Linked DNA regions of Homo sapiens: regions 1, 3 and 4 are each reported to be linked to region 2. The links are microRNA targets in miRTarBase. Many come from high-throughput screens and were not tested one by one. Region 2 holds a microRNA gene; each other region holds the end of a gene's coding sequence.

Region 1 (3,146 bases), not on the chromosome of region 2:
AGGAGTATTGACTTACAAGAAGGGGTCCCACAGTAGGCCGTCTGCAGGCTGAGGAGCAAGGAAGCTAATCCAAGTCCCAAAACGGAAGAACTTGGAGTCCGATGTTCAAGGGCAGGAAGCATCCAGCACAGGAGAAAGATGGAGGCCACAAGACTAGTCTAGTCTTTCCACATTCTCCTGCCTGCTTTTATTCCGGCCACGCTGGCAGCTGATTAGATGGTGCCCACCCAGATTGAGGGTGGGTCTGCCTTTCCCAGCCCACTGACACAAATGTTAATCTCCTTTGGCAACACCCTCACAGACACACCCAGAAACAATACTTTGCATCCTTCAATCCAATCAAGTTGACACTCCGTATTAACCATCGCAAGTTGAGTGCAAAATCTCAAGAACAGCTAACAGGGACAGACCCAAAATTCACTGGCACCCTAGAAAATGTCTGGATTTGCTAGAATCACCTAATTCTGTATCCCTGGGCCAATTATTCACTTGAGGGACCATATTCTGCCCTGCTCTGGGCTTCCCTGTCTGTGGCTGGGTGTGTGCTGATCCTGCCTGAGCAAAACAAAACTTGGGCAGCCACACGTTCATCACGAATACAGCCTCAGGAGTCAGGCGGCATGAGGTTATGGGCTCCGTTTGTGTCGCCCCCAGTATTCATCTTTGAAGCCTGAACCCCCGGCGGAATACTAGGAAGTGGGGCCTTTTAGGTATAGATGAAATCACAAAGGTGGAGGCCCACAGTGGGATGAGTGTCCTTGTAAGAGAAACAGACCAGGGTTCACTCTGCCCTGTGAAGACATAGTGAGCAAGCGGCTGTCTCCAGGCCAAGAAGCAGGCCTTCCCCAGACAGGTCTGCTGGCATCTGCTCTTGGACTTCTAGCCTCTAGAACTGTGAGAAATAAATGTTTGTTGTCTAAGCCACTCAGACTATGGTTAACAGCCCAAAACAACACAGGGGTTTTGCAGGCTGTCTCGCTAGCACTAGCTTGCATCTTTCTATGAGCAGCAGCAAGATTTATTGTGAAGAGCAAAAGAACAAAGCTTCCAGTGTGGAAGGGGACCCAAACGGGTTGCCACTGCTGGCTGGGGCGGCCAGCTTTTATTCCCTTATTTGTCCCCTCCCATGTTCTGTTTTTGTCCTATCAGAGTGCTCTTTTTTCAGTCCTCCCTGTGATTGGCTGCTTTTAGACTCCTGCTGATTGGTGCGTTTTAAGAACCGATTGGTGCATTTTACAAACCTCTTGCTAGCTACAGAGTGCTGGTTGGTGCGTTTTACAATCCTAGCTACAAAGTGCTGATTGGTGCATTTTACCATCCTCTTAGAGGACAGAAAAGTTCTCCAAGTCCCCACTTGACCCAGGAAGTCCAGCTGGCTTCACCTCTCAATATGAGTTATAATTCAGCCAAGCAAATCACAATAGAATTACAAAGGGTAAGTAGGTTAGACGGACAACACTTGTACAGAAAGTTTAGGAAGCTCTGAACCCCAGATGGCACCAGGCTACAATCAGAAATACCAGATGGTAAGAGCAAGAACTTGAGAGAAAGGCTCAGACCACGTTAAAACCCCTTCTCTGTAGATCTCAGGACACCACAATCATCCACACAGGGCCAGAAGCCGGGGCACGGGCACCCTTGCACGTGACATCCCTCTCTCCATGTCTTCCGTCTCAGAAGGCTTCCTTCCCACTACTGAGGGTGGCGTCTGGAGGCACCGCTCAGCCGCCCCAGTGGCACTCAACTGAAGAGCATTTAGCCTTGACCTACAGCAACTATTTTGGTGATACTGAAAACGGTGGGCTATAGAAACAAGGGATGAGGAGGGGAAGGGGAGAAAACCTCCTCCTTTCTGCCAATCGAAGAGTCAAAAACTTCGTGTACCCAAATCACTAATCCATTTGAAAATACTAAACAAGCATAACCTGAGTGGTGGTTCAGCTTCCACAAACACGTCGAGCTGATCGAAGGGCAGATTTTAATTCTGCAGGCAAACTCATGCCCCCATGAATTTCAGTTACCCGAAAAGGCATTCGCATTCAAAGAAACACGCACACACCTTTAAACCAACTTTGTGATTTTTATTGATGGGCGACAACTTTATACTCCTAGATATCACTAAACTGTGTACAATTAGGGACGCAGCATTAGAGAAGAGCAGACAGCAGAATTAAACAGAGCAGACTGAAGGAGAGATCTTCATTATTTGCCCATTTTTCATTATGTGTACACAGAAGCATGAATGCAATTTGAAATCTTTTAATGGCAATAAAGTTACAATCACCCATCTATGTAGACTAACATTTTAACTCCAAATATTTGATCTGCAATGTGTACGTAAGCAGTTTCTCTCAGTACAATTATTAAAATTTTTCCTGTTAGGAACCAGCAACTTATTTTTTATGTTTATTTTTCTTTTGAAGTAAGAACTAGTTCTTCTTTGATAACTGGCTCATTTTTATCATTTATCAAAAACTAAAGGGTAGGGAAGAAAAGTGTGATGGATTAAAAAATTTCTTTTTTAAGGAAAGATAAAATTCATTTTCACAAATTTACAAGTGTTGTTGCTGGTGCAGGATTTATTCTACTAAGCAATGAGACTGGGGATCAAATCCACTTTCTTATCTCAGGAATCAGCATTATTTCAGAAATATGGGTTTTTGTGTATTTTCTAAAATCAAGCAACAGTCTGTTTCAACCAAATGATTTTGATTTGGAAGTTAGAGTCAACAGAAGCTGTGTTGTGCACGAACCCCAAGGCATCTCCTTTTCATTCTAGCCCATTTTTGCAAAGGGAGAAAGAGTTTCTCTCTAAAGAGCCACTAAAGAGAGGCGGGAAGTGAGTGTGAGGTGGTGTCCTACGAAGCGGGCACTGGGCGCACACACAGCGCACACAGGGTTTACAGCAGGTCCACTCGGCGGTAATACAGGAGGTAGGCTGTGCGTTCAGCAGTTGGTTTCACCACCTGGTACTGGTTGATCACCTTGACTGTCTGGTCATCGATGCGCAGCCAGCCATTCAGACCGATCTGGAAGACGTCTGTAGTGTAATGGCCGCCCGTCGCACTGTTGCCGTGATGGTAGACCACTGGAAGAGAGCCCAGCAGGCAGCAGAGTGAGAACAGCACTGCACACGAATCATTACA
Region 2 (3,158 bases):
ATTGTGAGACAAGAGAAGAGAAAAAAAGCCATAAAGTTAAGAATGGGTCTCAGAAGGATACTGGCATTGGGAGTTCAAGCAGATGAAGAGCTTCTTAAAAATAAATAAATAAATAGGACATCACTGTAATAAAGAGAGAAATCCAAATGAGAGTAGGATCACAAAAGTGAATGGGGACTGGAGTTTAGGAAGAAGTGGTCAGCTGTGTCAGGCATCAAGGGGAGTTCGAGTAGGACAACTGGCAGAAAAGTTTGATTTGTATTTGGCAATATGGAGCTCACTGGTGATTTGGGGAAAAGCAGTGTCATTAGAATGATGTTATGCACAAGTGGGAGAGAGAAATGGTAGAAGATGCCAAATTACATATAGTTGAGGTGAAATGGGAAGTAAACAAATATAGACAGTGCTGCAGGCTACTATGTACTATTTCTAAAATCTTAGCTTTTAAAAAGAAGAAAAGAAGTGGGGTAAGTAACTTGAGGATAAAGCAAGTATAGAGAAGTTTTTCTCAAATTTCTTTTGTTTTCTATTTGAGAAGAGAGAAAACTGAACCTTGTTACATGTGAAATGGAGCCAGATGGTGAGAGAGGAGGGGGATATCACAGGGGAAGAGATGTCCCAAGCAAGGCAGGAGGCTCACGTGAGACAACTCAGGGCAGAATCCTACGCATTCATAGGCTATAAACAAGGAAGTGGAGGGAATAATCACATGGACTCAAGCTTCTCAATGAAAAACAGAAGTCAGTTCATCTGTTGAGAGTGGAATCGTGGAAAGGAGCAGTTGAGGAAAGAGGTAAACATTTAGGCTAAACATGAGGGAGTGGAGTAGAAGAAATGCTGGGTCAGAGTTGAGGGACTGAGGCACTTGGAGGCCCCTGAGTATGTGTATTAATGTGTCCATATGATGATGTGATTTTATTTTTCAGCAACACTGATATTGAAAGGACAGTTGCCTTGGAGATAAGAGAATGAGAAACTAGAATGGTAAGAAGTGATAGACAGAGTGGGATATTAGATATCGAATGTGGTAAAATATTTTAAGGTTATGATGAGGTCAAGAGCCGGGTCCCAGCAATGGGTTTCTGTAATGGGAGTTAAAGGCAAATGGGATTTAAAAGATCAAGGAAAAGAAAGGATAATTTATTTGACCATTAAAAAAAAATGAACATTGAAGCCATCCAGGTACTCCAAACATAGACACTTGAGAAAGCATTTTATTTTGCTATATAATTATTATCATTACAAATGGTAAACTTAAAACTGCTGTGATCAAATTTAATGACAGATGTCCTATATAAAAATGCAGAGGCAAACCACTTAAGAAAAACCATGATATGCATAGGCTTTTACTTGCAAAGTCAGATGAGTAAACATGAGGCAATTAATGGGCCATGACTGTAAGTCTAACCACGCAGTTCATGCACATAGAAAGTGGGTAAAGTTTTAAAGTGGAAATTGAATTGGGAAAATCAATCTACTATATGACTGTCATGAGTGTTCTGATAGTTATATAGTTATGTATATATTATTTTCTTCGTATTTAGCATGTTACATAGCAAGAGGCAGAATTATATGAGCAAATCCTCACCCAGAGAAGCAGAAAGCTAAAATTATCTGGTGTTTCTATCCCACTTTGACCAGAACATCTAACAAAAGTTGTAAAGAACACATATTTGTAAGTGTGTTATTGTCAATGGCATGGGTGCTGAGGTCCTACTTTATGTCTTTTTTTCACTCACACTACAACAGTAGGAAGGTGAGCTAACCTAGATGATGATACTGTACGTTTGATGGACAAAATAGTTTTGCCTTTTCTAAAACATGCTCTGTTTATAGCATACAAAAGATAGAGAAGCATTATTCTTGTTTAAACCAGAGTCTTTTTCATTGAAATCTCATCACATGATATAAATTGAATAAATAAACCAGAAGATGCTGACGAATTGGAAAACTTAAAGAACAATAGTACTATTTTGAACACATCTTTCAAAGATGGAATATCTGTTGATTGTGACAGCAAAAAGCGGGGCCACAGTTGCATTCATTGTTCAGTGAGCTTGTCCACACAGTTCAACCCACCGACAGCAATGAATGTTGATTGTGACCTTTTAAAAAATAATCTCTGCACAGGGAAGAGAAAGTCCTGGTGTGTCCACCTTTGGTTTCCTGTCTTCAGCGAATTCTGAGCACCATGGAGTAGATGATGGTTAGCCATAGGGTACAATCAACGGTCGATGGTTTTGATTTTAATTCCAAACTCACCGACAGCGTTGAATGTTCACTGAAGCAACCTCAAAACTCAGAATTCTACTCACTTTACAGTATCTGTAAGTATCTGAAGGGGATGGGAGACAGAAACAACAGTACCTTTAGTCATATATTTTATGCATTTTTATGCCATTTCAAAAGACTACAAAAGAAGACAAATAAGAAGCATGATTCTTCCAACAAAGAGTTTGGCAAACCTCCACATCACATTGTATGAGAGAAAAGGATCGGTTTCATTAAGCAAAAACATGGCCGATATTGGGCTAGTTCCAGAGATGGAATTATCTCACTGTTAAAGACAGGGACAATTTGTTATTCAAAGTACTTTGTGGTATAAAATCCAAACAATATCTTATAATTTAAATATTGTTACGCTTATAGTAAGCAAGCATTATGTATATAGCTTATACAGAAATTAAACAGAATTACCTTAGATTTCCTCAAATTGGCATTGATGATATCATTTATATTTACATTATATATTTACTATATTTTATTCTAAAATAAGGTTTTAAAATTAGTATAACTTCCTAAGAACAATCTTATTTAGAAAATGCTGAACAAATTATAAGTGAAGAAACCAGCTCAATACATTTTTCTTAGTTTATGGCACAAAGAGTTCATGAATACAGTGAAAGGTAAATACAATCTATGTATGCTACAAAACCGTTCATTTCCTATTATTTTAAATAACATCTAACATCTAACATCTCTTTATGGGTAGATGGGTGAGGGATTCTTTTCATAGTCTTATTTTCTAAGACTGTTTTATCATTAATGCTTATTTTAAAATTATTATGAACTCTACTGAATTTATTTTTAGAGCCATTTTCAATAATTTTCTACCATCAATTAAAACAAAAGTCACCTTGGATGTATCTAAACCAGAA
Region 3 (3,135 bases), not on the chromosome of region 2:
ATCCTTCCAGACTGGCTGAGAGAGAGATTTTTTGGTGAACCTGTTTCAGTTAAATGTGACATGGGCAATAATGAAAAATTGGGTGAAATGTTTTTAGGAGGCAGAAATTTTGAAGCTGCCCCAGATTTCACACCATCGGTCTTTGATTTCTCTGCGCAGTTAGATTCCAGTCCCCAGTCTCTAGATTGCATTGGTCCAGTAAGGGGCAGCCTTAGTCCAGACCAAAAAAAAAAGCTGTATGGGTCCAGTGGGTCCAGAATATCAGTGATCCAGGTTCCGATTCCCCCAGCTGCACTGAGTGAGATTGAATGTCAGTGATCCAGGCTCCGATTCCCCCAGCTGCACTGAATGAGATTGAATATCAGTGATCCAGGCTCCGATTCCCCCAGCTGCACTGAATGAGATTGATGGAATCTTTCTTTTTAGGAGTGGAAGTATTATCCACTTCATGGGAGGAGCAACGAGCATCTCATGAAACTCTGTTCTGTACGAAGCCCTTGCATCAAGTGTTTGCCTCATTTACAAGAAAAGGAGAAAAGTTGGATATGAGTCTGGTCTCCTAATAGATTGTTTTCACTGCACTGGGAGCACATCAGAGGTAAGTAACCAGTACTGAAGACAGTACCAGGTGGGTAGTACTGTCTGATGAAGGGTACATCACCCTTCTGATGAAAACAGACACCTACCTGTTCATCTGGATGGAAGAGCAGGTTTGAGTATAGACACTGGCATTTTTGAACAATTCCCATGATCACCTGGTCCCTTCTTAAAATGCTCAAGATGTTTTTTAAAGGTATTAGTTGATCATACATTTTAGTTGAAAATCATTTGTGGGGCAATAAAAGCCATTTTTTGAAAAAGGTGTATCACTCAAGAAGTACTTATGGAAAAATATCAAATTATTGAGGGCATTAACTCTGGGAAAGACCAGGCAATTAAGTTGTCACAGTAACTGCTACTAATTTAATGCCAGGAATAGAGATGCCAAAAATCCTAAAATTTTCAGAAAGGGCTCTCACAGAAATGTAGCACTCCACTCAAACTGCAATAGCTTGATTCTGTTGAGAAACACTGATCTAAATAAATGGAAAAATAACCCACATTCACTAATGAAGATAATAAGGAAGACCCAATATTTTTTTTTTTTTAAAAGGAAAGTATTTTTAGCTTTTATGAAAGCTTTAAGTAATTTTTCCTCATTTTCCTGTTTGAAACTTTTGAAAAGGAAGTTCTTCAGTGTTTGTTTGGTTAGGCGCAGTGTATTCTAGGCCACTGCTTTATAAATATGGTGTGAGAAAGCAGTAGGATAAAATAATCAGAGTTCAGTGTGTCTCATATTTTGTTTCCTAAAAGTTTAGTAGAGCTGTGAATGTACTAGGAAGTCCCCTCTGAAAAAGCACAGTTAGTTAGTTAGAAATCTGCCCATTAACTCAGGGGGACTCAGGCGCCCCCCGGGTCTTCCCTCTCCTGCAGGCTCTCCGGTTAGTGTCCTGATTTGCCGTAACCACGGGCCTCTGACCTGCTGGCACCTCTGGTTCCTTGGCGTGTGGGTCACTCACAGATATGAAAACCTGTGTCTGGCTGACCAGGTTCTCCTGTAGCCCTCCCTTGCCCAGGCACAGATAGGAGTCATGACTGGCCCAAGGCCACGTTCAGACTTAACCCTGCAATGGCCACGAAGTAACCTCCGTGTGGGAGAGCTCCAGGAACAGTGCAGGGGATTAAAGCCAGCTTGGAGTACCCTTTAGAAGAAAGTTTAAGAATAAAAGAGACAGGGCCAGGCAGCAGGCGTTCCGGGGTACAGTGAGCTATGATGAGACCTTCAAGCTCTTGCCTTCCAGGCCTGTGGTGGGGACCAGTGGCATGAGTCAGCAAAGTACCAGCACTCCTCAGATAAGTGATATTAACAGAATTTCCACAATCACTTTCAAGTTGAATAAAGCTTTTAATAAAACAGTCTTGTTCTTTATCAATACCTGTAAATTCTCTTAAAGCAGTAGCAAAGGCGACTGTAGCAAGAGCTCAAAAGGCAAGGCAATATCGGAAAGTGTATTTAACAGAAGATTAAAAATATAAATGTAGAAGATCTGTTTATATATTTTTCTTTCAGAAATAAATCCCCCCTCCCCTGCCAGGTGAAAGGAAATATTGCACTTTCTGTTCTCATGACTAAGGGGACAGGAGTTCCAGAAGAACCTTTCAAGATGATCAGGAACACCAGGACGAGGGCCGTCTCACCTCACTCGGACCACATGGAGACCTCCCTTCAAAATGGGAGCCATGTCCTGCCCCACCAAGCCCTGTCTGAAGTGGAGCTTCCCCGCCTGTGCTCCCTCCACAGTCCCGGAAAGCCCAGCGGCAAAGGCAGCTTTGTCCCAGCTCTGCCACCCTCCTGCTCACAGTGGTCAGGGCCCCTCAGGGGCAAGGACGGCAGGGATTGGAACGAGGGCTCTGGAAGGACTGTTCAGCCCTATGCCTAAGACCCCTATGCTGGGGACACTACAGGCACACACAGGAATAGCAGGGCCACCCTCAGAGCTCACACATCCACGAACAAATGAAGGCTGAGGAGGTTTCTAAACCTAAAGTCCATGAGTGTGCACTTCAATCCAGGAAGGTCGGGACTTCCTTCAGTTTCAAAAAATAAATTCTCCCTTCCGGTTTGGACTGTTGCAGGCTCGAGGCCATTCAGGAGTTGTCCACCACCTGGTGGGGCAGTGTGACAGAGGGGCCATTGGGGAAGGTGGCTAGCTTATCCCGCCCCTTCAAGAAGAAGGTCAGCAGCTCCCCCTTCCCCTTCACAAAGATGGGGCCTCGCCTCACAAAGCGGAAGCCGTACTCTCGGAGGATGACTTGGGTTTCTTCTACCACCTGGAGAGGGAGGGGGAGCAAGAACGTGGCGTTACGGGGGGAGCCTAGACTGAGGGCGGGTGGGGGCTTTGGGTGGTTGGAGCCGAGCACTGATCCATGGGTCCCAAGCAGTACGGGACACTCCCCAAACCTCCCAGGGCCAAGCCCTTCCACCCGTGGCGAGCAGCGGGTGGGAAGGAGAACCCTGGAGTGACTGGCTGGGGGCCTCCTCTCATCCAGAGACTTCTCTCCTAGGATGGCCATGGTCACCTGGGTGGCAGCACT
Region 4 (3,000 bases), not on the chromosome of region 2:
TGATGCCCTCTCAGATGTATGGGTCCACCCCACTCCCTGAGAGGGCCGTCTCCTGCAGACACTGACTCTCCCTTCATCCCATGTTCCTTGATGGAGCTGCTCTTAGCCTTTCCCCGAAAGGCTTCTTGGAGCAGTGGAGCCAGGAGCCAGTGCCAGGCCCCGTCCTTCCCCAGCCAGGCCCCATGACCTGCCCCCTTTTCTGCGAGCGTTGGTTTCATCCAAGTAATATCTTGGGGGCTTCTCCCGCCCCATCTGTCCAGTGGAAGTTGATGGCATGGATCAGGTCTGAGTTTGGCCTGGGGCCATGACTTGGCTTCTCTTGGCTTCTTGGAGCCTCCATTCGAGTGGGTCAGAGCAGGCGGGGATTAGAGCCGAAACTGAGAGGGGCCGGACTCACAGTGATGTGCACCTCCTCCCGTCCAGGTGGGGCCTGCCTGGGGAAAGCTTGTGGCCGGAAGAGAAAATGAGCTTCCTAGGACCCCTGACTCACGACCTCATCAACGTTGGTGCTACTGCTTGGTGGAGAATGTAAACCCTTTGTAACCCCATCCCATGCCCCTCCGACTCCCCACCCCAGGAGGGAACGGGCAGGCCGGGCGGCCTTGCAGATCCACAGGGCAAGGAAACAAGAGGGGAGCGGCCAAGTGCCCCGACCAGGAGGCCCCCTACTTCAGAGGCAAGGGCCATGTGGTCCTGGCCCCCCACCCCATCCCTTCCCACCTAGGAGCTCCCCCTCCACACAGCCTCCATCTCCAGGGGAACTTGGTGCTACACGCTGGTGCTCTTATCTTCCTGGGGGGAGGGAGGAGGGAAGGGTGGCCCCTCGGGGAACCCCCTACCTGGGGCTCCTCTAAAGATGGTGCAGACACTTCCTGGGCAGTCCCAGCTCCCCCTGCCCACCAGGACCCACCGTTGGCTGCCATCCAGTTGGTACCCAAGCACCTGAAGCCTCAAAGCTGGATTCGCTCTAGCATCCCTCCTCTCCTGGGTCCACTTGGCCGTCTCCTCCCCACCGATCGCTGTTCCCCACATCTGGGGCGCTTTTGGGTTGGAAAACCACCCCACACTGGGAATAGCCACCTTGCCCTTGTAGAATCCATCCGCCCATCCGTCCATTCATCCATCGGTCCGTCCATCCATGTCCCCAGTTGACCGCCCGGCACCACTAGCTGGCTGGGTGCACCCACCATCAACCTGGTTGACCTGTCATGGCCGCCTGTGCCCTGCCTCCACCCCCATCCTACACTCCCCCAGGGCGTGCGGGGCTGTGCAGACTGGGGTGCCAGGCATCTCCTCCCCACCCGGGGTGTCCCCACATGCAGTACTGTATACCCCCCATCCCTCCCTCGGTCCACTGAACTTCAGAGCAGTTCCCATTCCTGCCCCGCCCATCTTTTTGTGTCTCGCTGTGATAGATCAATAAATATTTTATTTTTTGTCCTGGATATTTGGGGATTATTTTTGATTGTTGATATTCTCTTTTGGTTTTATTGTTGTGGTTCATTGAAAAAAAAAGATAATTTTTTTTTCTGATCCGGGGAGCTGTATCCCCAGTAGAAAAAACATTTTAATCACTCTAATATAACTCTGGATGAAACACACCTTTTTTTTTAATAAGAAAAGAGAATTAACTGCTTCAGAAATGACTAATAAATGAAAAACCTTTAAAGGAAACTGTGTCTTAGCTTCCTTCGTATGATTTAATCTGCCTTCAACTCGCTGGCCTGGATGGGGATAAGGGCTCTGCTTCAGGGAACCTCCACCACCCACAGTGTATTTGAGAGGTTGCCCAACCAAAAGCCCCTGCTGCTGGCTTCTGGGGCATCGATCTTTCTCCAAGTTTGGCTTGTACTTTAACAATGAGGCCAGGAGTTTGAGACCCACCTGGACAACATAGCTGTCCAGTGGAGAATCACTTTGTACCATATAGCTACAAAAAAAAAAAAAATTACCCAAGATTGGTGGTGGTGCATGCCTGTGGTCCCAGCTACTCAGGAGGCTGAGGTGGGAGGATCGCTTGAGCCCAGGATTTCGAGGCTGCAGTGAGCTATGATTGCGCCACTGCACTCCAGCCTGGGTGAGACAGCAAGATCCTGTCTCGAGAGAGAGAGAGAGAGAAACAGAAAGAGACAGAGAGGAAAGATGGCTGACCTAAGAAAATGCAGAAGACAGTCAAAGGTAACCATTTTCCTCCGAAACAGTCCCCTCTGAGGAAGACCCACTCTCATGCGTGGCCATGTAAGGCCATTTGGCTTGAGAAGTTTAAGAAGTGATACCCAGCAGCAGGTTCAGCTCCACCCTTACTCAGATGCACCCATTCCCATTCTGGCCCTTCCTCCTCCCCTTGAGGCCAGAAATCCGTGGGGCCCGGGAATGTGTTCACCTGCAGCCCACATCCCTACCTCTAGACCACGCTCTGGATACCAGATACTGGAATTCCCTTCCCCAACCACCAAGCCCACTTCCAGGGCTCACTCAGCCTCAGGCCTGTGCCACCCTCCTGAGAGCGGGCCCCGTGCTGAGTGTGCACACCTCTAAGCCAGAAATGTGGCAACAGAGCTGTTCGTGGGGAGTGTGGGTGGGGCTCACCATGCAGACTGGAGCATATGTGGGTTTGCATACGAGGATCCTTGCGATCCCAGAAGGAGCTGGGAGGGAAAGAGAAAGCTGGTGGAGGGTATGCTCAGAGAGAGCTTCCCAGAGGACAGTAAAGGGCAAAAAACATTTTACCAGGCAAAGAATAGAACAGAGAGGAGGGTCAGGCCTTTCAGGCAGAGGACAGGACAACTAGATGTCTGGTAGGAGAGGGCAGTGCTGAGGACTTATGGAGGATGATCAGGAGGGGGTGAGCGGCGTGGTTCAAGGAGATGCACAAGAGGGTTGCTGTAATAATCCAGGGAGGGGTGACACAGCCTGCCCTAGAGTGGTGACAAAGTAGATCCATCCATCCATCCATCCACCCATCCACCCACCCATCTGTCCACCTACCCACCCATCAAC

The links. Region 2 holds the annotated microRNA hsa-miR-181b-5p (AACAUUCAUUGCUGUCGGUGGGU, at 2,074-2,096, opposite strand). A microRNA usually pairs through its seed, bases 2 to 8, with sites in the 3' UTR of a target mRNA and lowers its output. Matches are read on the target gene's strand: a 7mer-m8 pairs with bases 2 to 8, a 7mer-A1 pairs with bases 2 to 7 and ends in A, and an 8mer does both.
Region 1: miRTarBase lists USP10 as a target of hsa-miR-181b-5p. The part of its 3' UTR that is shown has no 7-base or 8-base seed match.
Region 3: the mRNA of CENPO is a reported target of hsa-miR-181b-5p. The part of its 3' UTR that is shown has no 7-base or 8-base seed match.
Region 4: the mRNA of ELN is a reported target of hsa-miR-181b-5p. Seed matches in the 3' UTR shown: 7mer-A1 at 525-531.

Annotation. Positions count from the first base shown.
Region 1 is chr16:84,778,837-84,781,982 of GRCh38, reverse strand. USP10 (ubiquitin specific peptidase 10) reads right to left here. Exons shown (of 14, transcript NM_005153.3): 14 at 2,061-3,088. The coding sequence ends at 2,901. It also overlaps a transcript of LOC105371378 not described here. Among named protein-coding and RNA genes, the nearest start is that of CRISPLD2, 40 kb to the left of the region's middle.
Region 2 is chr1:198,856,852-198,860,009 of GRCh38, forward strand. MIR181B1 (microRNA 181b-1) reads right to left here and starts at 2,131; the gene lies at 2,022-2,131. All of the region lies in intron 2 of MIR181A1HG (MIR181A1 host gene), which reads right to left. MIR181A1 (microRNA 181a-1) reads right to left here and starts at 2,302; the gene lies at 2,193-2,302.
Region 3 is chr2:24,817,244-24,820,378 of GRCh38, forward strand. It overlaps CENPO (centromere protein O), which reads left to right. Exons shown (of 8, transcript NM_001322101.2): 7 at 427-598; 8 at 2,111-3,135. The coding sequence ends at 563. It overlaps ADCY3 (adenylate cyclase 3), which reads right to left. Exons shown (of 22, transcript NM_004036.5): 22 at 1,926-2,871. The coding sequence ends at 2,689. Among named protein-coding and RNA genes, the nearest start is that of CENPO, 25 kb to the left of the region's middle.
Region 4 is chr7:74,068,234-74,071,233 of GRCh38, forward strand. ELN (elastin) reads left to right here. Exons shown (of 33, transcript NM_000501.4): 33 at 424-1,674. The coding sequence ends at 467. Among named protein-coding and RNA genes, the nearest start is that of ELN-AS1, 7.5 kb to the left of the region's middle.